Linked DNA regions of Homo sapiens: all the other regions are linked to region 3. Evidence: fine-mapped expression QTL. A gene starts in region 3. Each other region holds a variant in brackets. All regions are shown on one strand. Distances are between the middles of the regions.

What was found. PIP is the estimated chance that this variant, and not a neighbour inherited with it, causes the effect.
Region 1: its variant is the best candidate, but not a certain one, in a credible set for the expression of LINC02319 in whole blood (INTERVAL, PIP 0.62).
Region 2: its variant is the best candidate, but not a certain one, in a credible set for the expression of LINC02319 in whole blood (INTERVAL, PIP 0.66).

Annotation. Positions count from the first base shown.
Region 1 is chr14:52,202,883-52,205,566 of GRCh38, forward strand. No RefSeq gene overlaps it. Among named protein-coding and RNA genes, the nearest start is that of PTGDR, 63 kb to the right of the region's middle. The variant C/G (reference allele first, on the strand shown) is at 1,110.
Region 2 is chr14:52,281,641-52,284,324 of GRCh38, forward strand. No RefSeq gene overlaps it. Among named protein-coding and RNA genes, the nearest start is that of PTGDR, 15 kb to the left of the region's middle. The variant C/G (reference allele first, on the strand shown) is at 1,078.
Region 3 is chr14:52,124,062-52,126,745 of GRCh38, forward strand. LINC02319 (long intergenic non-protein coding RNA 2319) reads right to left here and starts at 1,436. Exons shown (of 3, transcript NR_187197.1): 1 at 1,133-1,436.

The sequences.
Region 1 (2,684 bases), 79 kb after region 3:
ACTGGCTATGGAATCACCCCTGACCTTGAACCCCAGCTCTGCCTCCAACCAGCTAAGTGACAGTGGGCAACTTAACCTCTTTGAGTCTCCATTTTCTTATTTGTAAGATGGGTGCAGTAATAGCAGCTATCTAACTTGGCTGCTGGAAATATGAGTCCTTACTAGACTCCACAGAGCAACCCTTTCCTGTGACCCCAGTCTCTTCACCTCTCTAGGCTCCTTGCCCCAGCAAGAGGCTCGTGCTTCACCTATCAGCTTAGGCTCCTCCCATCCTTTTTCATTTTTTTAAAGCTTCCTACGAGCTTTGACCTTTTCTAGCCTTATGTCTGTCTTTGTTTTGTTGCACATTACTTCATCTTGGATCCTTGATGGCAAATGCCTGTCAGTACTCTTCTCCAAATGATTTTCAGGGAGCCCAATCTCCATAAAGCATTAGTGGAATAGGATTACCTAAGAAAAAGTGCCCCTAGGGCCAAATAAATTTGAATAAGTATGGGTTAAAGAATATTAAGCCAGGTTATTTTACTAGGGGATTTCTCAGATGTGCTAATGTGCATTACAAGACAGGTAAATCATGTAAAGTTTTACACAAACTGAACTGACCATATGACTTTTTTAACTGAAGAATCATATGACACTAGTATTCCTCAAAACACATTTTATTAGAAGGGAGACAATGGTTCAAACAGTTACTGTATTCATTATTTGCCCCATTCCCTGCCTTTTGGGAAACCTAGTCTGGGGCTCCTGACTCTCCCCAACTGCCTCCTCACAATAGTCAACTGAGCCATAGTTGGCTGAGTTAAAAGATGTTCATTCAGTACAAGAAGACTCCAGTTAATATAGGAAAGTAATATTAAAATTATCAATGGTCATCGACAAGATCAAGATGAAGATGGTTCTACCTGATAGCGAAAACTTTAGAGTAAACTGTAGATAGAGTCAGTCTTGGGAAACAAAAGAAAAACACAAGGCGAGTCCTGACATTCCAAAAAGCAAGGAGCATTGCTACTAGTAAATGTCAGATTAAAAAAAGCTTTTCTCCAGGGTTATTTTTAAATCATTTTAAGATTCCTGTAATAGCCAAGAATTTACATCATTTTTGATAA[C/G]TACATGACAACTTAATTATTCTAGCCAGAGAACTACAAATTACTAGCAGATCGTAAGTTAGGATTTTGAGTCTCATGCTTTACATTTTACAGACCTGAGAAATCTAGCTAGTGGAAATATTCCAAGTCTTTAAAACATGATTCTGGGATGAAACAAAGTGGCAATTTTTAAAATATATATTTTAAGACTGATTTTACCTCTTTTGTTGTGATTTTATGATGAGCAATTTATAAACATAAACATTAATATATTTAACATGATATAGCTAATAACCAGTTCTTCCATGCTCCTATCTAAATGCTAACATTTAGACACCATAGTAGCAGGTGTCTAGGCTTCAGATGAAACAGGGACTCAGTCCCATCAGCATCTCGGGGTTGGTAAAACTTCTATGTGTATTTGGCCTGGGGACGGGGAAGCTCACAAAGCTCTTCTCTTCTCCCAGAGATTCTCTCTTTTATTTTGCACCAAGTTTTCTAGTGGGTAGAGCCACAGGGTTTAAAAGCTCTAAAGATAAGCCTCCCTATCCATGAGCATGGAATGTTTTTCCATTTGTTTGTGTCATCTCTAATTTCTATGAGCAGTGTTTTGTAGTTCTTCTTGTAGAGATATTTCACCTAGAAATACCAAAGTTTTAGGTATTTTATTATTTGGTGGCAATTGCGAATGGGATTGCATTACTGATTTGGCTCTCAGCTGACTGTTGTTGGTGTATAAAAATGCTAGCGATTTTTGTACATTGATTTTGTATCCTCAGACTTTGCTAAAGTTGTTTATCAGCTAAAGGAGCTTTTGGGCCAAGACTATGGGTCCAAAAGGGTCTAGATATAGGAGCATGTCAACTGCAAACAGAGATAATTTGACTTCCTCTCATTCTGGGCCTAGGAATGAGCAAAGATTTCATTGCAAAGATGCCAAAGGCCATTGCAACAAAAGCAAAAAGTTGATAAATGGGACCTTATTTAAGAGCTTTTGCATAGCAAAAGAAACTATCAACAGAGTAAACAGACAACTTACAGAATGGGAGAAAATTTTTGCAAACTATGCATCAGACAAAGGTTTAATATCCAGAATCTATAAGAAACTTCAACGAATTTACAATAAAAAAAAACCCCATTAAAAAGGTGGCACAGGACATGAATAGACACTTTTTCAAAAGAAGACATATATGCAGTCAACAAGCATATGAAGAAATGCTCAACATCACTGATCATTAGAGAAACGTGAATCAAAACTACAATGAGATACCATCTCACACCAGTCAGAATGGCTATTACTAAAAAGTCAAAAAAATAACAGATGCTGGTGAGGTTGTGGAGAAAAAGGAATGCTTATACATCTACCAGATGGTGAGAACTATAATATGAAAACAAATAATATGTGGGTGGAAGTGTAAATTAGTTCAACCATTGTGGAAAAGTGTGGTGATTTCTCAAAGACCTAAAAACAGAAATAACATCTGACCCAAAAATCTCATTACTGGGTATATACCCAAAGGAATATAAATCATTCTATCATAAAGACACATGCACGCATATGTTCATTGAAGCACTATTCACAATAGCAAAAACATG
Region 2 (2,684 bases), 160 kb after region 3:
AGGTGCAAATAAGGAGCTGATCTCCCATGCCTTGAGCCCCTGACACACTGTGCCAGGTAGCCACGATACCAGTTCAGCGAGTAACGGCCCTGAAAAGCTAGGTCCCCAAGCAGCACACTTTGGATCCAACAAACCCTCCGACTTGGTCAAATCTGAAGGAAAACTCTAAATTATGTGGAAGGAGCCCTTTAAGTTGGCTGAAACCCCCACAGCTGTGGAACACAAAGTTCCACCCTTAGAAACTCTGGCCAGGTATATGCAAAAACACTTATGGTGAATTGTCATGCAAATATTTAATCAAGTGGACCACTATAATCAAGGCAGATTCTAACCTACAGAGGCCTAGATGGGGATCTTCTGAGATGCCCAAATTAGTGTACCTGTGAACTAGGATGCAAAACGCAGGCACAAAACTAAACAACCAGAATGGGAGAGCTACTTTCAATGGTACCTAGAGAGTAGCAAATGGGGGGAAGATCACCTCATGTCCTTACAATAAGCCAACAAACAACTTAGAAATGCTAACCAAGGACTCTCTAAAGTTCTATCTCTCTTAAAGAAATCCCCAGAATCCCTTACTTCCCTGTGGCACCTCCCCACCTCCACTTACACCCCCACTTTACCCCTGACCTCTCTGAACTTCCCGGACCAGATCTGTTCCCTCCTTCTCCTGCATGTTCTAATTTAACATCTTCCTCTCCTTGTACACCACTCACTCAACAGAAGGCAGTAGGGAGTCTAACTTCCAAGACCCTACCTCCTGACAATTCCCTGACAGTGCCAGTGGCAGCCTCTCATCTGGAAGATGTGGAAAAGGGGGACCCTGCAGGGCCATCTCTCATGATCACCCTGTTTTGGGAACAACCGGTAACACATAGGGGAACCCCGGTGATTGTCTACCAACGCTGGTCAAAGGCTGAGTTGCAGGGCATAAAGAATTTCTGGGCCCCCATAAGATCCAATTGAGTTTGCCCAAGAATTTGAATTCATTATCAGAACCTATGACCCAGGCCATTCAGACCTCTAACAGCTGGCACACATGTTGGTCTCGGAAGCTAAAGCTAAGGAATAGCTGGA[C/G]AAAGTACAGTGGTCAGACCCTGTAGCAGACTTAACCCTTGAAGGCCCAATAGAGCTACAATAACCAGCCCCCAGAAGTCGAGAACACAGACACAAAGATGTGTGGGAATGAGCAACTGCTCTGTTAAATACCATTTCTTCAATATTCCAAAGGGTTGTGGATTGGGATAAAATCCAGCAATGCCACCAGAACCGAAATGAATCAATTTTAGATTATTTTATACATTTTGACTGAGATAATATGCTCCAAATAATTAACTTACACTCTCTCGCCTGGTCCTTCTGACGAAACCCCTCATGACTATGTTCTGATGACTGACCAACTTCTCACTTCTGGGACAGACTTACAAGAGATGCCACTGGATAATGCTGAGATAGAATGGTATACAGATGGGTCTTATTTAAGAGGATGGGGATGGAAATTTTAGAGCAGGATATGCTGTGGTCTCTTTACTAGAGGTAGTTGAAGCTGGTCCTCTTCCTCAAGCCAAATCAGCTGAAGGGGCCAAATTGATTGCCCTGACTCAAGCTTGTCGATTAGCAAAAGACAAGGCTGCAAACATACCCTGACACCTGCTAAGCATTTGGAGTTGCTCAGGACTTCGGAATGTGAAAGGAGAGAGGATATTTAACCTCCTCAGGGCAACCCATAAAAAATGGACAACCAACTCTCAGAGCTGTTAGAAACTATTCTCAACCAAAACTTTTGACAGTTGTAAAAATCCCAGGTCACTCTACATTGGACACCACTAAAAGTGGAGATAACAAATTTGCTATTGCTACAGCTGAAAAAGCAGCATTCAAGCCACCAGACCCAATCCAAAAAAATGATCATAAAGCCTGAAACACTTAAAAACATGTTGAAGGAAACCTAGAGTATAGCCCCAACAAAAGAGAAATCCACTTGGAAACAGACAGGGGAATACCTGTCTCCTGAAACTAAAATATTGTATGGACTTAATAATAAACCATTATTCCAATGGGATGTCAGGTGCCCCTTAAGGAATGTGTTAATAATCTGACACGATGGAATCCAGATAAAAGTATATCCTAGTGTAAACAATGTTACTGGAAACGATCCTCCACAGTGGCACAAAAGGTTTATTCCCAGTGTGCTATTTGTCCTAAGGATAATCCACGGAAGCTCCTCCATGAGGCCCAGGGTCATTTTCCCCTTCCAGCTGGACCTTTTGAGGTATGGCAGCTTGATTTTATCCAGCCGCCATCCTCTCAAGGTTACATGTCTTAGTAATGGTCTGCATGTTTTCCCATTGGGTTGAAGCTTTTCCCTGCAGGCAAGCAACAGCGATGGCAGTTGGAAAACTTTATTAGAAAAAATTATTCCACTGTGGGGAGTCCACTGTGAACTTTACGTGATAGAAGAACTCATTTTCCTGGTCAAGTTATTCAAAATATTTGTGAAATTTGGCCCATATTTCAACATTTCCATTGTGCCTACCATCCCCAGTCCTCAGAGCTGGCGGAAAGGACCAATGGAATAATTAAAACACAATTGGCTAAGTTCATAAATGGACTTCACCTCTGTTGGCCTAAAGCACTCCCCTGGTGCTTCTTACCCTCTGGTCCACCTTGGGAAACATCAACTA
Region 3 (2,684 bases):
ATAAAAAATTGGGAAATGTTATTGAAAGACCACCATCTGGACACAAGGGCTCCTTGGGAAAACACCACAAGAATGCAATAAGCCAAAGCTCGAAATTCTACAGAACCTATTATCTGATTTCTTCTACGAATGAATAGCATGAAAAGAAGAGAGGAACTAACGTGTATTTTGTATAGATCTTACTTGGTTTCCAACTCAAGCCAACTTCAAAAAAGACATTTTAGACAACAAGAGAAAGTGGATCACTGGGCATTACGTGAGGTGAAAAAATTACTAGTTTTGTTACATATAATAGTAGTACTGTTATTTGTTAAAACTCCTTATCTGCTAGCAATATATTTTGAAGACTTTACAGATGACATGATACTTCGAATGTGTTTTTACATATCTAGAAAAAAACTGGAAGGGACATAAGTGAAACAAACTTGGTCAGATATCGAAGTTAGGTGGTGTGGGTTCATCATACTATCCTCTAATTTTTGTATGTTTGAAAATATCCTTAATTTTTAAAGGTTAAAAAAAGACTTTATTTAGAAACACTAAAGAAGACAAAAATAAATGGAGAGATATAAGGATGCTTTAAAAAGGTAATTAATTAATTACATTATTTAAAAAGCACAAGAAGACAAGAAAGAATCCAGCTCAAATCCTATGTCCCAGGGTCCAGCAACTAGCAGGGTGTGTCTAAAATTCCCCCAAAGCCGCAGCTGAGGACCTGAACTGGAGGGCAGATGTCCCTCCACCCTCCTTCCTAGGGCAGCAATTAGCACTCCAGTCTTCTGGTTGGAGGCTCTTTGTAGCCTCATAGTTCACAGAGCCCTTTTGGACATGGAGTGAATAGTTGGTTACATTCTCCACATTATTATGCAGATGACATTGCTCATGGTGGATACTAGAGCTGGGGCAGCTGATGAGGAAATCACCAGGGGTGGCTCAGAAAAAAAAAAAATGACCTCCCTAAGGGACACTACAGGAAACCAGCCCCGAAGTGATTTCTTTTGAAATTCGGGGCAGCAGCAAGCTCATATTTCTTTTGGTTAGTTCCTTCACCATGGTTGCCAGTCTCAGTAAAGCTGAGTGTTCCTATCTCCGCCTCTGTCTCCCTCATCAGCTATTGTTTTACCTCACCCACCCAAGGTATGGGAGGCCTCCATTCCATTTAGAGAGCTCCTGGTGCTTCCTGGTGGCTGGTGATGATTCATTTTTATTCCCTTGAATCTTCCCCACGGCCAGATCATTGTTGTCCATATCCTTCCCTCCAGGAAACAACAAAAGGCAATATTTGGTCTTTTGGCTGGAGTCTATGCCGGACCAACACATCCCACAAATGGCTTGAGCTGAGGGTTCCTCCAGCCCCCTGAGATTTCCCAAAGCATTTCGAGATAAACTCTAATAGTAGGATACATTTGCTTTCCAGTTGAAGTGATGGGTTATATGATTCATCTGTTTCCTAAGATTTCCAGTTATAGTCATGAAATCTGGCCTCTGCCCCTGATGTAAAATCCTTGTGTTTACAAGAAGTAACCTAAGTAACCTACCACATGTTCAGAGTTGGAAACCTACTTCCTGTCCCCCGAGTTTGTAAACCCAGCAAGATATATTTTCTCTTTTCAGCCATGCTTGAAAAGTTGGTATAACTGAAATAAGTTTTAAATAAGGCAAATTGGAATAAACTCCAACTCAATGATTTCATCTTCCCAATCCTGCCCCAAATCATGGCCATATCAGTGGGATTTCCAATTGCAAACAGCACCAAACAACACCAAATTCATGTTAGCAAATTTTAAGGATGAGAAGTGACCTCAGCCATCCAGAATTGGATTTGTAGCAGATGACAAATAAGATGCTTAGAATCACAGACCATCAGAGATGGCCGACTTGAGCCAGCATCGACCCTCTCCTTTCACAGGTGAGAAAACTAAAGTCCAAAGACAGTCTTATTTTAAAGCCTAAATTGCAGGGGTAGCGAGTGAAACCAGTTTCAAAATGAGGTTTACCACAGAGGAGCCCAAACCCACTCTCTCACTCATGTCACATTCTGAAGTGTCCTTCTTACTGGTTTCCAACTCTTCACCTCTCTCTTCTTATCTCTTCCCCCTGCCCTCCACACTGCTCCCTGCTGCAGCCACTTTCTCTGCAGCACAGCCCTGATCATATCTCCCCTGGCTCAAAACTATTCCATAGTTCTCGGCCTTGGCTGTTCCCAATGACATTCCAGTTGAACTTCATACTTCACTCGCGTGCCCTGCCCAGTCCATATGGAAAAGTAGCTGCTCCCAAGAGATCTTTGTGCCTATCTCTTTTCCCATGTGATTTTCTCTGCCCAGAAGATTCTTTCTCTTTAACAGGCAAGATCCACCTACCCTTTAGGGGCTCGGTTCAGATACCATTTCCTCCACAAATGCTTCATTCACTCTCCTAAGTGAAAGCCAGTTCTCACCTTTTTGTCTCTTTGCACTGTAGATCTCTATTTTGGCAGGTAACACATTCTATTTCATGTAATACTGTAGTTAATTACGAACATTCTGCATCTTCCCACTTGACACTAAATTCCTGTAAGTGAGAAACTAGATCTTACTTACAACCCCAGCACAGTTATTTGTTTAGCGTGAACATCATTTTTTAAAATTAAATTGGGTTGAAATCCACTATCTTTGGAAACCCAACAGCATTTAGGCATATAA